Homo sapiens: one gene and its partners. The protein of the gene in region 1 interacts with the protein of each later gene in a biochemical or structural test. Each region holds a gene or a part of one and is shown on either strand. Other genes may lie near its edges.

Region 1 (4,267 bases):
ACATATTATAGTATACACAACATATATACACATATACATATATATACACATTATATATATATTTTTATAATATAAATTTTTAGAGCTTGCTACTAGCACACTCCTGCTAGTTGCCCAGGATGGGGTGCAGTGTTGCAACTACAGCTCACTGCAGCCTCAAACTCCTGGGCTCAAGCAATCCACCCACCTCAGCCTCCTAAGTAGCTGGGACTATCGGCATGTGCCACCATGCCTAGCTAACTTTTTAATATTTTGTGGGAACAAGGTCTCACTATGTTGTCCCAGCTGGTCTTCAACTCCTGGGCTCAAGAGATTCTCTCACCTTGGCCTCCCAAAGCACCAGGATTATAGGCATGAGTCACCATGCCTGGCTTCAGAATTTTTTATTTTTTTATTTTTTATTTTTTTTGAGACGGAGTCTCACTCTGTCCTCTAGGCTGGAGTGCAGTGGCGCGATCTTGGCTCACTGCAAGCCCTGCCTCCCGGGTTCACGCCATTCTCCTGCCTCAGCCTCCCGAGTAGCTGGGACTACAGGCGCCTGCCACCATGCCTGGCTAATTTTTTTGTATTTTTAGTAGAGGCGGGGTTTCACCATGTTAGCCAGGATGGTCTCGATCTCCTGACCTCATGATCCGCCCGCCTTGGCCTCCCAAAGTGCTGAGATTACAGGCATGAGCCACCCCGCCCGGCCCAGAATTTTTTAAATGTGAAATTAATTCCAGCAAAAGTAGCCAGTGAAAACAACTTTTTCTCCCCCCAGTCAGAGTCTTGCTCTGTCACCCAGGCTGGAGTGCAGTGGCGTGATCTCAGCTCACTGCAACCTCCGCCTCCCGGGTTCAAGGAATTCTCCTGCCTCAGTCTCCCAAGTAGCTGGGATTACAGGCGCCCACCACTGCGCCCGGGTAATTTTTGTATTTTTAGTAGAGACAGGGTTCCACCATGTTGGCCAGGCTGGTCTCAAACTCCTGACCTCGTGATCCGCCCGCCTCAGCCTCCCAAAGTGCTGGGATTACAGGCATGAGCCACAGTGCCTGACCAAAAAAAATTTTTTTAATGTGAAATTAATTGATAACTAATAACATTTTCAGGCATAGGAGGGTGAAGTGTGCGAAGAAGGTGTGTGTGAATGGTAAGTTTAGGAGGATCAATCTCCTCAGTTAAAAAAGCCTCTTTAGTTTTAAGCAGGATTAGTCAAATTTCCCATCCTTAGCTTCTGCCAGTTAAGCTGTGGCAAAAGACAAGGTCAGGGGCTGGGGACTAGGCCAGATGTCACCTGTCACCCCAAACTGGCCAGAGCTCAAACATGAGACAGTGGTGATGAGCAATAAGAACTGGGATGGAAACCAGGAAACCCAGGAGCCACTGCTTGGCCCTAACAGCTGTGTCCTTGGGCAAGTCACTCCCTCTTCCACCACCTCAGCCCTAACCTGTAAAATGCAGGGGCTATGCTAATTTAGTGAGTGGTTCTACACCCCCAGGAAGAAGAGTGACCTCCCTGGAAGAAGATGGAATTCTGCCAGCGGCCAGGCTTCAAACCTGAACTGCACCGCTGGCTCCTCCCTGGCTCTCCAGCCTGCCCGCCTACTCTGCGGCTTTTAAGACTTTGCCAATCCCCATAGGGAGCCAGGTCCTCAAAATAAACCTGCCTCTATATAGACACATCCTATTGATTCCATTTGGAGAACCCTAATACAGACTTTGGTTGGGCAAAAAGAGAAGTCTTGTGCTATTTTAAGCATTAAAAAACCCTAAGAACCCTTGTGTATCCAGTCAGCAGGGATAACTCTACACAGGTAACTAAAATGTTAGGACTGTTTTTCTCGCCGTTCATAGTTTTTACTGCGGTTTCAGCTCTGTCACTACTAATCCTTTGGTTAAACGGCGGAGGCAGCCTGGCTCAGTGGTTAAGGGCACTGCATTTTATTAGCTGTGTGACTTCGAGCAAGTCCCTTCACCTGAGGACTTTCCTTCTCCATAAATTAGGGACGGCAACTACCTCAAAGGGATAGGAATGTTATGATTTAGTTGTCCGTACATTTTAGAAAATTTACACAAAGCCTTTTGCTGTGCTGCGACAGGAGCTGTAATCGGCAACATGTCTTCATTTGAGGAAGGGAAACATTAAAACAAATGGGAGGTGCTGGCTTTATTTATAGCAGCCGATCAGTAATGGTGAAATAGATGAGCTTTAAGGACCCTCGCCTCGGCCCTCGATCTGCTCAGAGCCCCGCCTCCACACCTAGCCCCGCCCCCACCCAGCTGAGGACCCGCCCCCGCGCTTAGCTCCGTCCTCCGCTCGGCTTAGGACCCGGCCCCGCTCACCTGGATCTCCTGACAGGCCGAGACCGCCCGCCGGCTCTCCGCCTGTTTTTCCTCGATGAGGCCCAGCCCTAGCCCGAAGGCCAGAAAGACTGCCCGGCCGCAAGGGCCCGCGCAGCCCCAGGCCCGCACCACGAACTGCCGCTGCAACCGCGCCGCCAGCCCGGCCACCGACTGGCGGAAGAAGCGGAGACGGTTAGGGAGCCCGAGCCCGACCCTGCGAGGCTCCGCGCCCGGTCCTGCGGCCCAGCCTGGACGCTCCCCGCGGACACAGCCCGCCGCCGGGCCCGGCCGCCCCAAGCCGTAGGCCCGGCCGGGCTTGCCCGTGAAGCGCAGCAGCAGCGCTCGACCCAGCTGCAGGCCGCGGCCCAGCGCCTGTCGCACCGCCATGGTGGCGCCGCGGCCCGGTGCCCCCGCAGCCGCCGCTGCCGCCACCACCGGCGTCCCCCGCCGGTCACAACAAACTTGGGGCGGTGCCTCTGCGCAGGCGCAGGCGCTGGTGGGCGGGGCCGGCCCCCGCGGCAGTTCCCCGACTCGGCGCGTGGGGGCGCTATGCTGGTACTGGCGCCTCTAGCAGTGACTTTCCCTTTGCACTTTGGACCCACGTGGAGGGCTTGCCGGTTCAGGCAGGTCCTGAATGTGAACATCACTGGTCCTGGGCAAAATCGAGAAGTCGAGAAGGGAAACTGATATTTTTTGCCAACCATGGTGCCAGACCCTTTACGTCTTTTAATTTATTTAACAGCTCCACCAACAAGATAAAAATGCCGTTTTTATAGATAAGAAAACCGAGGCATAGTAAGGGGCAGCATTCGAGGTCTTGTGAAGGTACCTAGCAGAGCTGAGCTACAGTTCACATTGTCCTAACTGTTGAATGCTTGCCCTCCTCAATGCCGTTAGGCTGCTGTATGTGTCCACAGTCTCAGGGGTTTTGAAGACCCCAAGACAAATCTCACCCAAAAGACACAATTTATGAATGAGTGTGCTGAGGTCCCAAGATAGCAGCTTGCCCAAAGCCACACCGTTTGTTTAATGGCATAGGCCTGCTCACCACAGAACACACACACGCACGACACGCACATTACTGAAACAGTTTGCTGTCTCCTGGCCAGGGGTCCACCCCATAGCCAAGTAAGCCCAGGGGACAGAACTCTTCAGACAAAAAATCCCTTCTTCAGCAGCAGCTCCTATCTACATGACCTTTGACTTCATATTTAAGGAGAAAGGGATTTATGAACAGAAGCCATAGTCTCTGGCTTCAGCGGCAGGGAGACAAGATGGTGGATCCCCATGCCATTACCCCCAAGACCCAGGGCCTATATGCTATAGGAAAGGAATGTGACGGACATTTGAAGTCAGTCCCCCAGGGAAAGGCAAGAATGCTGTGTGAATCTGCCTAAGGGCAGGATTTATGGTAAGTACATACTTTTACACAAGGAACAATAGATAAACTGGAAATCTTAGAGGCCTTCCCTAAAAGCTGGTTAATCAGAAGTCAACTTGGTTGGCCGGGTGTGGTAGCTCACAGCCTGTAATCCCAGCATTTTGGGAGACTGAGGCAGGTGGATCACTTGAGTCCGGAAGTTCATGACCAGCCTGGCCAACAAAACACCATCTCTACTAAAAATACAAAAACTAGCTGGGCGTGGTGGCACACGCCTGTAATCCCAGCTACTCAGGTGGCTAAGGCAGGAGAATCGCTTGAACCCAGGAGGTGGAAGTTGTAGTGAGCAAAGATCACACCACTGCACTCTATCCTGGGCGACAGAGTGAGACTCTGTCTCAAAACAAAACCAAAAAACCAACAAAACACATCAACTTGGTGGATTAGCATCCAAGACGGGGTTGCTTTAGCTTGCACTGTGTGTGTGTGTGCTGGTCTCTCTCATAATCTTCCTTAAGGGAGGAATTTTATGGTTCTTGTGATATCCAATCATATTTATTTGGG
Region 2 (5,027 bases), on another chromosome or scaffold:
TATAGCCTACTACACACCTAAGCTGTATGTTGTAGCCTGTTGCTCCTAAGCTACAAACGTGTATAGCATGTTACTATACCAAATATTATAGGCAGTTATAACACAATGGTAAGTATCTGTGTGTCTAAAACATATCTAAACATAGAAAAGGTACAGTAAAAATGCAGTATTACAATCTTTTGGGACCACTGTTGTATATGTGGTCTGTTGATTGAAATGTAAATATGCATGACTGTATTTCTTTCAGAAGGGTGTTAAGTGTTGAGATAACCTCTTAAAATTCTTGACATTTTGATCTTTACTGGTAGTGTCTGAAGATTAATTTGAAAGGTAATTATCTGATGTCTAACCTGCTTTGATATTAGAATGTACAGGATGTTTAGTTTTCTAGAAGAAGGGGTTTCTTGCTTAATAGTGATCAGAATTGCAGGGCAGAAATGGTTGGCTTGTAGTCCTTTCTATAAGTTGGATACCATTTTTATGTTTTGGAATCTTGCCTTTTAAATTTCAAGATTTTTAAATCACTGTTTCTAGAAAGTAATTATATATTGAATTACTACTACATGCTCAGCATTATGCTGAGGTGTAATAATAGAGATGAGACACTGAACATACTTAACTGGACTAGTTGAATTACATTTATTTACGTATTTTTTTCTTAGCTGAAAATACTCCTTGATCAAGTTGAAGAAGCAGTGGCAGATTTTGATGAATGTATTAGGTTAAGACCTGAGTCTGCTCTGGCACAAGCACAGAAATGTTTTGCATTGGTAGGTACTACTTTCTTTTGTATTTTCCTAAACATCACTTTTATTTTCCAGCGTCAACAAAAATGAGTATCTCATTGTCTACAAAGTCGTCTTTTTCTTTCTTTCCCAAAGGATAACTACTGAGGAAAAAAGGTGCTGATTGATACCTAGCTCTTGTATTTCTCTGGACATTTGTTTGGGTTCATCTTGATAGATGTTTGTCCCTGATTTTATACTTCCCTAAACAGAACTGGTCTCCCTGCTTCATCATAAATCAATATAAAGAGCAAAAACATTTTGAGGAAACACTCTGTAAACATGACACCATGTAACTTGCTCTCTCACCCCTGCTTCATAGAACTGTTTCTTAATATTCAGAAACACAAAGCTCAAAAGGTTGTTTTTTTTTTTTTTTTAAGTAAAAATTTTTCTAGTAAAATAAGATACTTCCAGTTAGCTGTATGGCTGGAGTCGTAAAAGAATTTTCAGTTTAAAGGAAGAAATTATGTCACAAATATATATTATAAATGAAAATGACAAAAATTTTACTAGATTTAAAATTCATTTATTGCAAAGTTCACTTCTTACAAATTAGTATGCCCTCTTCTACAGTATTGAACATCTTGAAATTGTATAGTGGCCATGGAGTCCTAGTTGTACATAACCTTTGGCTCTCTGCTGCTGAGATACCTACTTGGAACCCTTTTGGATGCTGCAGATTATGTTAGCAAATCACCTGTTTTTTTGGAAATATTTATGTAATTTTGTGTGTTTATGTTAACATTCCATGAGTTTTTGAGTTCTTGATTTGACAGGCCTGTTTTGATTTTTTATAGTACCGCCAGGCATATACGGGAAACAACTCTTCACAAATCCAAGCAGCTATGAAAGGTTTTGAAGAGGTCATAAAGAAATTTCCAAGGTGTGCCGAAGGCTATGCACTATACGCCCAGGTAAATGTTTTTTCAGGTTTTTTAAAAATAACTGCATACATATGCCAAATCTCAGTATGGAAATCAGAAAACAGTGCTATCATGGTTGCAGCTTCTTTGGAAGCAGGTGGCTTTGTTCCTGATTGATTCTCATGGCCCCTGGTTGGTCCCGAATCACCTCAGAAGAGGCTCCTTTGTTACACAATTTGGAAATCATGGCCCTAAACTCAATATGGGGAAGCTTAAGGCGAGAATTTCCCTCCTGTCTTCATTTGGATTGGTTTTGCAAAAAGTAATTACCTTAGGAAAATTTACCGTATGCAATTGGTGGAGAAAATATCCACGGAAAGGCTTTTCTTTCTATCTGGTCACTGCCTTTTTATATGGCTAGGTTGTTGTAACGGTTTATTTTAATTTATCTTTGCTTTATCTAAAATTCCTGAAACTCTCTTGGTTTAGGATTGAAGCTATGGAAAGCAGGATTTAAATCTGAATTTTTTTATTGTAGTCTGAAATTCTTGAAAACTTCTTAGTTTTAAATCATCCATTTAAATGAAAATGATTAGCTTCTTGTAGTGACGGTCATACATTTTCCCCTCAAATAAAAGATCTCTGAATGACTCAGTTTTCTTTCTTAAAGCTGAAAATTGGTTTTGGTGTCTACATAAACTAGCCATCTCAATACTCTATATCAGGGGTACAGCTGCTTTGTGGCCTCTTAGGAATGGGGCTGCACAGCAGGTGAGCCTTGGGCAAGCATCACCACCTGAGCTCCACCTCCTGTCACTGTCAAATCTGCAGCAGCATTAGATTCTCATGCCTGATGATCTGAGGTGGAACAGTTTCATCCCAAAACCATCCCTCCTCCTCCTACCCCCATCCATGCAAAAATTGTCTTCCACAAAACCAATCCGTGGTGCCAAAAGTGCTGGGAAGGTGTTGGGGACTGCTGCTCTATGTAATTTATTTTTCTTTTTTTTTCTCTTTTTAATTACAAAAGACATGTTGGGTTTTTCCCCACAGCACAGAAATAGGAAACGATAACAAATTACTATCCCCTGGCTGGGTGTGGTGGCTCCTGCCTGCAATCCCAGCACTTTGGGAGGCTGAGGCAGGCGGATCACTTGAGCCAGGAGTTTTGAGACTAGCCTGGCCAGCATGGAGAAACCCCATCTCTACTAAAAATACAAAAATTAGCTGGGTGTGGTTTGGCGCACACCTGTTATCCCAGCAACTCGGGAGGCTGAGGTAGGAGAATCGCTTGAACCCAGGAGGCGGAGGTTGCAGTGAGCTGAGATCACACTACCACACTCCAGCCTGGGCAAGAGTGAGACTCCATTTCCAAAAAAAAAAAAAAAAAAAAAAAATACCATCGCTGGTTGACCCCTCTCCTTAAACCATTCTTAAGGATGCTTATTTTGTTTTTAATTTCCTTCATGGTATCTGTAGGCAGGTTATAAGAACAATTTCACAAGGATTTTAAGGGTTTATTGAGGGTGGAACTATGAGAAAATTGATTTGTGTTGGATCTGTTCTTTAGAGGTAGGTCTTATATATAACTACATTAAAGTGTACATTTTAATCCTATGAATGGGTACACTTGAGTTTATGCCTTATAATTAGTAACAAACCAGGAAATGACAGCAACATCCTCATCATTGTCATGGAATTCAGAAGGGCTTTTTTGGTGCAGATTTCTCTAAGCATCTAGAAGAGCAAAGGCCACCGAATAGGAACCACTACTGGGGAACAACTCCTCTGCAGAACTTTCCCAATAGCATATTTCCCTATTACCATTCTGCCTTCAAGATAGGTTTGGTTTGTATGAGCTGTCTTCTCATCAGCATTAGCATTATTACAGTCAGTTTGCACTCAAATTTCTTTTCTTTGGTCTGTTTTCTAATTTTAGCTTCACTATATAGTATATGTAACTTTATATATGCATACAGTACGTGTGTGTGTATGTGTATGTGTATATATATATACTTAGTGTAACTTTTTTGGCCCTCAAAGCTTTGGCGTAGATGCTGGCCAACTCGCAAAGTTACAGCTTGAGCATAGTCTGATATCCACAGAACTGTGCCTTCCATTTCAGCCGTGGGATTTGTCTTAAAAAGTTGATTATAGCTGCTGCTTTTGTTTTCAAAATAAGTATTTATTACATTATTGTTAACTATGACAAACAATTGGGGAAAATCCTAAATGTTAACAGAAAATTGAATTATGTTTGCAGAATTGTGGTACACTCACTTAATGGTATATTATGCAGCCATTAAAAGTTACAAATACATTAAAGTTACAAAGCAAGATACAGCACTGCCTATTATTAAAGGGAGAATTGCATACAAAATGAACTCAACCATGTGAAAGAAAACAAATAGGGAAGTAAATAGAGATAGAAAAATATATCAGGAAGGCATCCATGCTCACAATGATGGAAGCTATAAAAATATTTCTACTTTCTATATCTTTCTGATTTTTATTATAAAGAAGATGTGCTGGCTACATTTCTTTGATATTTTTAAGAGCGATTTTTAAAATATTTAAGTTGGCTTATTTTAGATATGAAAAGACTAAGAGCCATACAGCTAAATATAATGACTCACATACTTCTTAAAAGTCATCTTATAAATAACCGGGGTTAACTGAATATGGGCTAGGTATTATAGATAATATTAGGGAATTATTTTTGGAGATATATTAGTTGAAGCAGTTATAGCTGCTTTTTAAAAAATCAATAATTTTAAACAAATAGCTCTGAAGACATTTAACACATACATCTTAACTTATACTTCCAAATGAATATTGCCCTTAAGATAATTCCCTGGCCAGGTGCGGTGGCTCACTCCTGTAATCCTAGAACTTTGGGAGGCCGAGGTGGGTGGATCACCTGAGGTCAGGAGTTCGAGACCAACCTGGCCAACATGGTGAAACCCCATCTCTACTAAAAATACAAAAATTAGCCAGGCAAGGTGTTGGGCGCCTGTAGTCCCAGCTACTCAGGAGGCTGAGGCAGGGGGATCACTTGAACCCAAGAGGCGGAGGTTGCAGAAAACAGAGATTGCGCCACTACACCCCAGCCTGGGTGACAAGAATGAAACTCTATCTCAAAAAAAAAAAAAAAAAAATTCCCTTGGGCTGTATTATGATAAATTATGAATAAGTGATGTGACTGTACCTATGAGAATGTGATATTAGAGCTGTGACTAAGAATGGGATTATCTGTATTGAACAGTTTACCAGAGATTATCTGCTGTGGCATATAACTAACCACTTGCTGAAGAAAGAGGATAGTTAAGATTTCATATTTATAGCAGTGCCACCTAAAAACTCCGATAATTAAGAT
Region 3 (5,027 bases), on another chromosome or scaffold:
GTTTGGGGTTTTTTTGTTGTTTTTTGTTTGTTTGTTTGTTTGGCTTCAAGTGACTTGTGTTTATATTGTATGGCAATTTGAGTGTAGCGTTACATGGAAAGTGCTTAAAGAGGTACGGGGACAAGTGCCTTAAACCCTTATAGGAAGCCCTTAGGATAAAATTTACATTTTATTTTATTTTATATTTTATATTTTATTTTATTTTAATTTAATTTAATTTTATTTTATTTTATTATTTTTTATAGATGAATTTTTGCTCTTGTTGCCCAGGCTGGAGTGCAATGACGCGATCTTGGCTCACTGCAACCTCCTCCTCCCGGGTTCAAGCGATTCTCCTGCCTCAGTCTCCCAAGTAGCTGAGATTACAGGCATGCGCCACCACGCCCAGCTAATTTTTTTTTTGTATTTTTTAGTAGAGACGGGGTTTCACCATGTTGGTCAGACTGGTCTCAAACTCCTGACCTCAGGTGATCCACCCATCTCGGCCTCCCAAAGTGCTGGGCTTACAGGCGTGAGCCACTGCGCCTGGCTATTATTTATTTTTTAAATGAAGTAGAATCCTTCTCATTTGGCTGCAGAACGGGTGATAGAACAGAGGTGCTCGTCTGCTTCACTCGCTTTTTCATACTTTGCAGACTCTTCCATGGAGTGCTTCTCATGATGATAGAGGGAGTCTCCAGTGTATTTCTTGTTCTATTTTCTTTTCTCCCCAGTGCTGTCTTTTAGTGTAGGGAAGCCTACTCATTTCCTCCTTGAGAGAGGTTCTTTTATGGAGATGAGTGCTTTTTCTTTGAAACGGGGTCTTGCGCTGTCTGCCCAGCCTTGAGTGCAGTGGCGCAATCATAGCTCACTGCAGCCTTGACTTCCCAGGCTCAAAATATCCTACCACCTCAGCCCCCCAAGTAGCTGAGAGTACAGGTGCACACCACCATGCTTGGCTGGTTTTTAACTAGCTGGTTTCAAACTCCTGGGCTCAAGTAGTCCTTCTGCCTCAGCCTCCCAAAGTGTTGGGATTGCAGGCATGAACCACTGCATCTGTCCTGAGATGAGTGCCTTTTAATTTTCTAACCTCACAAGGTTTGACAGGTAGGCAAGAAAGGAGCATCGGATAAGGCCCCAGGAAATCTAGGTTCCAGCTTTGGTTCTGTTGTCTGCTGTGACTGCAGGCAAGTCACCTAACTCATTACCCTTTTACCCATGAAGAGGTAGCTTAGTTATTTTCGTATTCCATTTTAATGGGCAGTTGGAAAAAAGGCAAATAATTTTGTAACATTTTTGAGTTGCTGTGAGAATTCAAGGTAGTGGTATTTTCTGACAGTTGTCATTACTCTTGCTCTTAAGGGCAGCTGTGCAGACAGATGGGTCAGTTAGTGAAGCTGACCCTTTTGTGTGTGCTCACCTGTGAATGCAAGCTTATTGGGCAGGGATAGTGTAGATGAACAGCAAGCATGCTGAGGGTATGTCATGTTATAGTGTGATGGGCTGTGCTTTTGTCTTGAAAGCTTGAAATAGGATCCAGTTGGCACTATTCACTTAGAACTTTTTCTTTTTTTATTTAGGTGAATACAGCAGTCCAGTTAATCTTGGTGGCAGCTTCTTTGGCAGCTCCAGTTTTCAACTATGCTGACAGCATTTATCTTCAGATACTATGGTAAGCTAAATTTAGAATCACTCTCTTAGAATGTCAACAGAATGACTTATGGTGATAGCCCTAGAATGACCTTGTTCTTACAGCATTTGTTGAGCACTGACTGGGTAAAGCTGTGGCTATATTTGGTGATTGATACCATTGTTAAGACGCTTCCTGCCAAGTATGAGATGGAGAAGTTAGCTTTCATACAAATTAAAAGGGATAAAAGGTACTGATAATGTGTTAAGGGTTTTGGAGGAAGAGATAACTTCGTAGGAAGAAGAGGGACAGTTTCAGGAAGGAAGTGGCATTTGTTGCATGAAGTGGATTGTGTGTAGGAAGAGACTGAGAGGAGACCACTAGGTGAAAGACAGGGCCTAAGCCAAGAGATAGAGTGTAGGAGAGAGGGTAGGGAAGCTGAGTCCAGCCTGTTGAAAAGGGTGTTGTAGGAGGGAAAACTGGAGAGAGGAGTTTGAATTTTATTATACTAATTGCTTATTTATCATCTTAAAAGTGTGTCAAATTCACGCTTTCAGAGTTCAAAATAGTCACATTGACATTGGAGTATTATATTTTGGCACAATTTTAACTAGAATTAAAATTATCTTGCTTGGTACAGTCTGGACCAGAAAGTGGTGGCTAATCACAGTCAGTTAAGCCAGGCAGTCTTTTAAAAAATGACAACTACTCTAAACTTTTTATTTTAATTAAAAATATTTAAGTGTACATTTATCCCAGTTCATCTTATACCTTCTGATATAGGATGAAGGCTTTTTGAGTGTAGGTCCATCAGTGGGAGTTTTTTCTTTCTCGGATAAACTACATCCATAATACAAACCTCTCTGATTTTCATTTTTTACTTCTTTAAGGTGATGCAAGAACTTAAAACATTTGCAAAGCAGTCTAAGAACTGTTTAGATATTTTCCCTAGTCTTTTCACAATCATCTTGTCTATTTATTTTGACAGTATTTTTTTCCCCTAGGAACCCATGAAGAGAGAGACAGTATTTTTTTTTTAATCAAGTCACCTTTATTGAGTCTTTCTAAAGCATCCAATGTAGTTTTCAGAAATAGCAATTAAAAAAATTTTTATTTTATTTTTTTGGAGACAGGGTCTTGCTCTGTCACCCAGCCTGTAGTACAGTGGCATGATCATAGCTCACTGTAACCTTGAATTCCTGGCCTCAAGCGATCCTTCAGCTTCAGCCTCCTGAGTAGCTGGGATTACAGGCATGTGCCACCACCACACCTGGCTATTTTTTTTTAATTAATTAATTTATTTATTTTTGAGACAGAGTCTCGCTCTGTTGCCCAGGCTGGAGTGCAATGGCCTGATCTCAGCTCACTGCAACCTCTACCACCCGGGTTCAAGCGATTCTCCTGCCTCAGCCTCCTGAGTAGCTGGGATTACAGGCGCCCACCACCATACCTGGCCAATTTTTGTATTTTTAGTAAAGGCGGGATTTCACCTTGTTGGTCAGGCTGGTCTCGAACTCCTGGCCTCAGTTGATCCACCCGCCTCAGCCTCTCAAAGTGCTGGGATTACAGGTGTGAGCCACTGTGCCCAGCCACTAATTTTTTGTATTATTATTTTTTGTAGAAACAGGGTCTCACTATGTTGCCCAGGCTGGTCTCAAACTCTTGGCCTCAAACAATCCTCCTGCCTCGGCCTGCCAAAGTGGTAGGATTATAGTCATGAGCCACTGCGTCCAGCTAGAAATAGCAATTTTTCTAACACATATATTTCATTGGTTTATGTATGAATTTAGAATATCAAAGTGGCATGAACAGGTTCAAGATCCAACAAAAGGGAATCTTGATTCTGCCTCACCTAATAAAAGCAGAAGTGCGTGGGCGCACTAAAAAGTAATCTAGCTGTGGGCATGCAGCATGCCATGGGTGTCAGGTGATGTCATTTCAAGGAGAATCCGGTTAAGGGTAGTTTGGTAAAGAAAGCTGAAATTTATTTAAAATGACTCAGGTATCTTTAGAATTCTCAAAAGCTGCAGGAAATAAGAGTCTGGTACCCTGAGAAGCATGGGGCAGTAGAAAGAGCATGTGGGCTTTAGAGTTCAAACGAAGTCAGGCTCAAACATAGTTCTGTGATAAGCCCTGAGCAAGTTACCCGGGTCTTCCATTTCCCCCTTCTGGAGAAGTCCTTTGGAGGATGAGTCCTTCTGGAGGATGAGTCCTTCTGGAGGATGAAGTCCTTCTGGAGGATGAGTTCGTTGTAAGAATAAAATGAGAATGTAAGACACCTAGAGGATGCCCGAGTAAAAAATGACAGTTGCTAGTAGTAGTAATTTGTAGGGCTCATTATCTAGAATAATTTTGTTTGACGTTACTAATTAAAATGAACTCTTAAAGAAAAGCAGTGTATTTAGACTCTTGTAGTTAAGAAAAATTACACCACAGAGCCCTTTTTACTTTTTAAATTCATTTTTACATTTTAAATTCATTGCATGTATTCATTATGATTCCCGTTGCTACTATTTTTTAGACTTGACAACTACATTTTATTTCTTTTCTTCCATAAAAGGTGTTTTACAGCTTTCACCACAGCTGCATCAGCTTATAGTTACTATCATTATGGCCGGAAGACTGTTCAGGTGATAAAAGACTGATGAAAGTCATCCCTCACTGTTAGTAAGGAAGCAGTATACATCAATGGGAACAGGGCCCATGGAAATGTACAGGAGTTTCCCTATTTTGGTGTTCAGCTTGAAAAAGGACTTGTCAGAATCAACTGTGTCATCAAAATTTAAGTAATGTGCATTGAAAATAAGGTTGATCATGGGAATATGCAGAATTTCCAATGTATTTTTAAATACAAATAAAATTGTAATTTAGAATTTTTAATCTTAGGTTTCTTGATTAATTTATAAGAGATCAATTATTGTCAGTCTTTTTTGTATGTTTTTTAAAAACATAGTCCAGAGCATGGGCAGAATTGACACCTCTCTTTTAAGTGAAATTTGGATTGCTCACAAAGCACTAGGAAATGTCATGGGGTTCAAATATATATCCTACACAACTGGGCAATACATTTTTGTTTGATTTTTAGGTCTGTGTATACATTAACAGTTCATGTAATTAATACCTGATCATTTGGGATAATGAAAGTGAAGTTAGTTGTAGATGAAGTAAAGTTATAAAAGAGATTAAAAATGCGGTAACTTTTTAAGATAATAATCATACAGAAGGTATGAAGTTCATTTTCGGTAGTCTTCCAACCTCTCAGGTGCCTAATAATTTATGTTTGAGGATAACAGGTAACAAAGATAGTCGAGATAGGAGAACGTGTCTATTAGTCTTTGCATCTAAAAGGCAGTGAGTTACGTTCCTGCCTTCCACTGTGTTTCTGACATAGCAATGTTTGTTTGATATTGGAACCTGG
Region 4 (5,027 bases), on another chromosome or scaffold:
GCAAGGGTCCCCTTCCTGTACCCTATCTCTCCTCCTGGGGCCAGCAGCATGACACCCTGGGCTGTACCACACACTCTACCATCTCCCCTTTACCACAGCCACATTTTCTTCACAAATTAGAGCTTCTAAGTCATCATCCTTCCTCACTCCCTCACCCCTTCTATGAGTTTGGGCCATAATTTTGAAAGGCACAATCCTGAATGTTGAAATTGGGAAAGATGAAAGTCCCAAAAATATAATTATGGAAAAAAAATTTAAAAATTTTAAGACCTTTATTTACATTTTTAAGAGAAACATACAAAACACAACAGAGTGTTTTACAGGCCACTTAACACAATAAAAGAGGCAATAGTAACATACATATTTTTGCAAGCATAAACACTCAGATATACTAACAACTGTAGCATGGGGATAAGTTATAAGCAGACAAACTATATTCACAAAGAAATAGATCAAAAGGGAAATGTATAAACGCGTATTACTATGATTACTAATTGTGTGCACCCAGCTTTATAACTGTGGCCATCTGAAACACCGTGATGGACAACTTAAATCTTTTGATGGACAGCTCAAAAACCAGCGAGTCACCATTGCATATGCAGTCACCCAAACCGCCGAGATCTCAAGAAATTGTACCTTTCACAAATGCAGATGTACAGAAAGGACATCTCTTTATTTACTGAGGAAGTTTCAGCGTTTTTAACACACGCACAATGCATACACACAAAGTCAACATTGTGATAATGCACCTTCCTGGAGTCAAATTTGCAAAAAAAAAAAAAAATGCATAAAACAAATGAGAACTCTCTGAAAGTCTCTACACAATGTATACATCTATTATTGGAGACAATACGAAGATTAAATATATAGCATAGTATATTGGCACTATGTGTGAAAGGGCAGAAGTAGTACATGATTAAATAATTTGGCAGGGGAGATTTTTTGTATCTTTCACCTGCATTTTCACTTCTTCTATAATCTTCGAAACAGTCGTTGCACTTGTATTTGGAGAGTGGTTGTGGTCTACAAATTTTCTAAGTGTATGCTGTCCATTTGAAAGTTTGGTTGTTGCTGGGCCATTGCAATTAAGTAATTTTCTGCTAACACAGCACCAGTATAATTAGCTTTTAAACTTTTATCTTTCACCAATAAGTAGTTTCATACACTTAACTTATCACAGCATTTTTGTGAGGGATCAGTTTCACAGATCTCTTCCAATGTGTTGTAAGGAATGCATAAGAATGAATGATATTCGGCTTCCTCAGTACCAAATATGTATTAGTCAGGGTTCTCCAGAGAGCTAGAACCAATAAGATATGTATGTATATGGATATATGAGAGGGGATTTATTAGGAAAATTGGCTCACACGATTATGACGGCTTAGTAGTCCCATGGCATGCCCATCTGCAAGCTAGAGACCCTGGGATGCCAGTAGCATGTCTCGCTCCAAGTCCGAAGGCCTTAGAACCAGGGAAGCCAATGGTTAACTCTCATTTAAATGTGGGTGCTGGTGTAAGTCCTGGAGTCCAAAGGCTGGTGAGCTTGGGGTTCTGATGTCCAAGGCAGCAGAAGAGATCTGTCCCGGATCTCAGAGAGAGATCAATTTGCTTTCTGTATTTGTTTCTCCCAGCCATTGGCCAATGAGATGGTGCCCACCAACACTGAGGGCAGCTTTTCCTCAGCTAACCCACTCATACTCACACACTAACCTCCTCTGGAAACATCCTCACAGAAACATCCGACATAATGCTTTACCAGATTTCCAGGTATTTTTAAATTCAGTCAACTTGACACCTAAATTTTAGTTCACAATCCACAACTTAGCACCCATACGCATCTCTTTAAATCATACTTCATTTCCACATAAGACAATAACAAGGTAATAGTTCTGCCTAACATGATACAACTAACATGGTGCAGATATCCTGCGCACAACCTAAATGTACTAATCCTTTCTCCAGATTTTGACTTTCAGAATTTTAACATTTGGGATTTTAATCTTTTGGGAATGAGATTTTCAGGGTTTTAGACTTTAGGAATTTTGATCTTTGGGGAATTCAACTTTCAGGATTATGATGTTTGGGACTGCATCTTTTGGGATTATGACCGGCACCAATTGTTAGCATGGTCATTATGACGACAACAGCTACTCAAAGCTGGCTTTGACTCCCCACACTCCCCACCTGGCTGTCTTTCTCCGCCTTCCCTTCCTCTCTGCAAGCTTTAGTGCTTGCTGTTTCTTGGTATTTTGTGAGTTATCTTTGGCCTTGAAGAGAATTGTGAATAGAACAATTTTTTGCCTCATGTGAAAGTCGGATTTGTCCTTAATGTTTAGCTTCAAAGAAAGCACGGAACCCCACTGGGCTCTGAGCCTGGAAGACAGGCTGGGTCTCAGGAAGACACTCATGCCTGCAGTGGGACAAGAGCTGAACGAGCTGGGACCTGTCATTCACAGAGCCAGGAGCCATGCAGATAAATCCCCTTCTCTGCTCATCCTGAAAACTTGCCCCTCATGACTTATGCATTACTTCTTTTCATTAGCAGAGGCTTGAGTAAGCACGTGGGTAGGTGGCTCTGTGAGGGGTATCTGATTCGAAGAGTATATATCTGCAGGCTCGATGACACCACTCTGAGATTCAGCAGGGTAGAGACAGAGATGGAGGCAGAAACTGCATGTCCCTGTGAGGTTGTACATTTTCTCTCTGCCCTGCAGTTCGTTGCACCTTGAGGACACAGCTTTCCTCTGAGCCCGGCATGGATGAGAAGGGGGATGATGCTCAGTCTAGGCTGCAGCCTCTGGAATCGAGGAAGGGCAAGACAGAACTCCTAGATCCCACTGTCATCAGAAAATTAAACATGAATGAGCTAAGCCCTAGGCCTGAGTTGCCTACACTCCAACCTGAGTTTCTACACACACACACACACACACACACACAGAGAGAGAGAGAGAGAAATAATGGCAATTCTGAGATGCTCCCCTGTGTGGGCCCTGAGTGGACTCTGAATAGAAGATCACAGGATGCGAAGCCCAGTGGGTGCGGAATACTGGTCCCCAGCACAGTGGAAGAACAAATAGAGATAAACAAGACCCTTCTTCCCCACCCAGTCTGTAACCAACCAGCTTCAGGAAAGAGTTAAGTGGGGAAAGTGGTGTTGGGAAAGAAGAGAAATGTTTTAGTTGAGGACTTAAGGTATGAGTTTTGGAGTCAGATCTGGGTTTGAATCCAATGTTGCATTCCTTGGATAATATCTTTGGCCTCCCAGAGTCTGCATGCTCTCCTCTATAAAATGGTTGTTGTAAAGATTAAATAATACGATGTACAGGCCAGGCACGGTGGTTCACGCCTATAATCCCAGCAGTTTGGGAGGCTGAGGCAGAAGGATTCTTGAGCCCAGGGGTTCGAGACCAGCCTGGGCAACATAGTGAGACCTCGTGTCTCCAAAAATATAAATATTAGCAAAGCATGGTGGCCCACACCTGTAGTGTCAGCTATTCAGGGTGGAGGGGCTGAGGTGGGATGATCGCTTGAGCCCAGGAGGTCCAGGCTGTGGTGAGCCATGACTGCACCACTGCACTCCAGCCTGGGTAGCAGAGCAAGACCCTGTCTCAAAAAATATACATATGATTTATATAAAGTGTTCAGCACAGCACCTGGCATATTATAATTACTCCATCAATTGTAGTTATCATCATTACTAGTAGGTGAGTCCTGCAGAGATGTTACCTGATGCACAAAATGTGACCCAAGTTCCTTTGCCTAAGTTTGGGTGACCAAACTTTTACTCCAACTGTATGTTGGAGGGAAGGGGGAAGGTAGAGCAGTAAAAGGACATACCTGCTGAGGACCATGCTTTTGAAGCACACAGTGTTTAAGCTGAGAGCCAGAATAATGTCCTAGTTTAAGGAGCCGGTCTAACAAATGTGGCTCAAGGGGATGAAGTGACTTGCCCAAGGTTCCCACTGATGAGGCTCCAGCAGAGCTGGGGATGGTACTTTGGTTAAGGACATTGCCTCTCTAATATGTCCCCATGGCAGTGTTGGACCTCTTCCCAGAGGGGTCTTGTTCTCAGGACCTTGCCAAGGTATAAACCAGCTGGACAACAGCGGGGCATTAAAAAGGCAAATGTTCCTTGTGTCTCTAGCGCTGGCACAAATATATAGTGAGGGACAGGGATGAGGCTCCAAATGAAGTCACCAAACCCTTGCAGCCATTATCCCAGACCTTCAAACAGCAGGATGGATCCAAAGGCTACATATTCATCTTGACTATGGCACCATCAGAAAACAGATGAGAAACAAACACAATGTTTTTACCAGAAGAACAGGTTCTTTGTGGATTATTTAGAATTGTGGTCTAACTGGAAGTGTCAGTTTTACTTGCAAGTTGCTATATCTTGTAATCATTTCTTGGTCCTTTAATGTATTTTTAATCAAGAATCTATGATAAGGAGGGCACTGCTCATTGCAGGGCTGTTTCCAGCTGTGGCACAGCACTGGAAACAGCATGGAGCAAGTAGCCTGAGAAAGGAAACGGTAGGCCCTGGCTCCCCAGGACAAAAAGGACAGGATCCTCTGCAGAAGAGATGGGCCACTGCAGCCCCTTGGAGAGGGAGGGCAGGGTTAGCTTGGCATTAGGAAGGCCCCATAGAGATGAAACCAAATGTAGATCAATAACACAGATTTTACAAGAGACTGGCCAGCAAGCCTAGCCACCTGCCAGCTTCATAACCAGACTTCATGGCCTCTCGGATCTAACAGCTACGACTCTGCCAAGATGTGACAGGGAGTCCAGGGCAGGTGGCCACTTGGAACCCTGGGTTCCCTCTGTGTACTTTAGGGATGTATAATGACTTATACTAGGCCAAGGCAGCTAAACATCCTGAAACCCTGATAATAGTTTTCTACCGTATTAGTTACACACACAATAAAAACAATAATGATAGTAACAACCACAAAATGCTACATCCAGGAACTATGTTAAGTGCTAATGCATTTAATCATCACTGGGAAGTAGTATATTGTTAT

Evidence for each region. The genes of interacting proteins can lie anywhere in the genome.
Region 2: the proteins of PINK1 (region 1) and TOMM70 form a complex in vitro, tested with the Homo sapiens proteins (one study listed by BioGRID).
Region 3: the proteins of PINK1 (region 1) and CRLS1 form a complex in vitro, tested with the Homo sapiens proteins (one study listed by BioGRID).
Region 4: the proteins of PINK1 (region 1) and SIAH3 form a complex in vitro, tested with the Homo sapiens proteins (one study listed by BioGRID).

The regions. Positions count from the first base shown.
Region 1 is NC_000001.11:20,631,991-20,636,257, reverse strand, and holds the start of PINK1 (serine/threonine-protein kinase PINK1, mitochondrial precursor), read right to left. Parts: upstream 2,801-4,267; 5' UTR 2,710-2,800; coding exon 2,323-2,709; intron 1-2,322. UniProt on the Homo sapiens protein: Serine/threonine-protein kinase which acts as a sensor of mitochondrial damage and protects against mitochondrial dysfunction during cellular stress.
Region 2 is NC_000003.12:100,369,281-100,374,307, reverse strand, and holds part of TOMM70 (mitochondrial import receptor subunit TOM70), read left to right. Parts: intron 1-662; coding exon 663-770; intron 771-1,585; coding exon 1,586-1,702; intron 1,703-5,027. UniProt on the Homo sapiens protein: Acts as a receptor of the preprotein translocase complex of the outer mitochondrial membrane (TOM complex). Recognizes and mediates the translocation of mitochondrial preproteins from the cytosol into the mitochondria in a chaperone dependent manner.
Region 3 is NC_000020.11:6,032,905-6,037,931, forward strand, and holds part of CRLS1 (cardiolipin synthase (CMP-forming)), read left to right. Parts: intron 1-1,559; coding exon 1,560-1,651; intron 1,652-4,169; coding exon 4,170-4,254; 3' UTR 4,255-5,027. UniProt on the Homo sapiens protein: Catalyzes the synthesis of cardiolipin (CL) (diphosphatidylglycerol) by specifically transferring a phosphatidyl group from CDP-diacylglycerol to phosphatidylglycerol (PG).
Region 4 is NC_000013.11:45,840,945-45,845,971, reverse strand, and holds part of SIAH3 (seven in absentia homolog 3), read left to right. Parts: intron 1-5,027. UniProt on the Homo sapiens protein: Negative regulator of PRKN translocation to damaged mitochondria. Acts probably by destabilizing PINK1 protein, hence inhibiting PRKN targeting to dysfunctional depolarized mitochondria.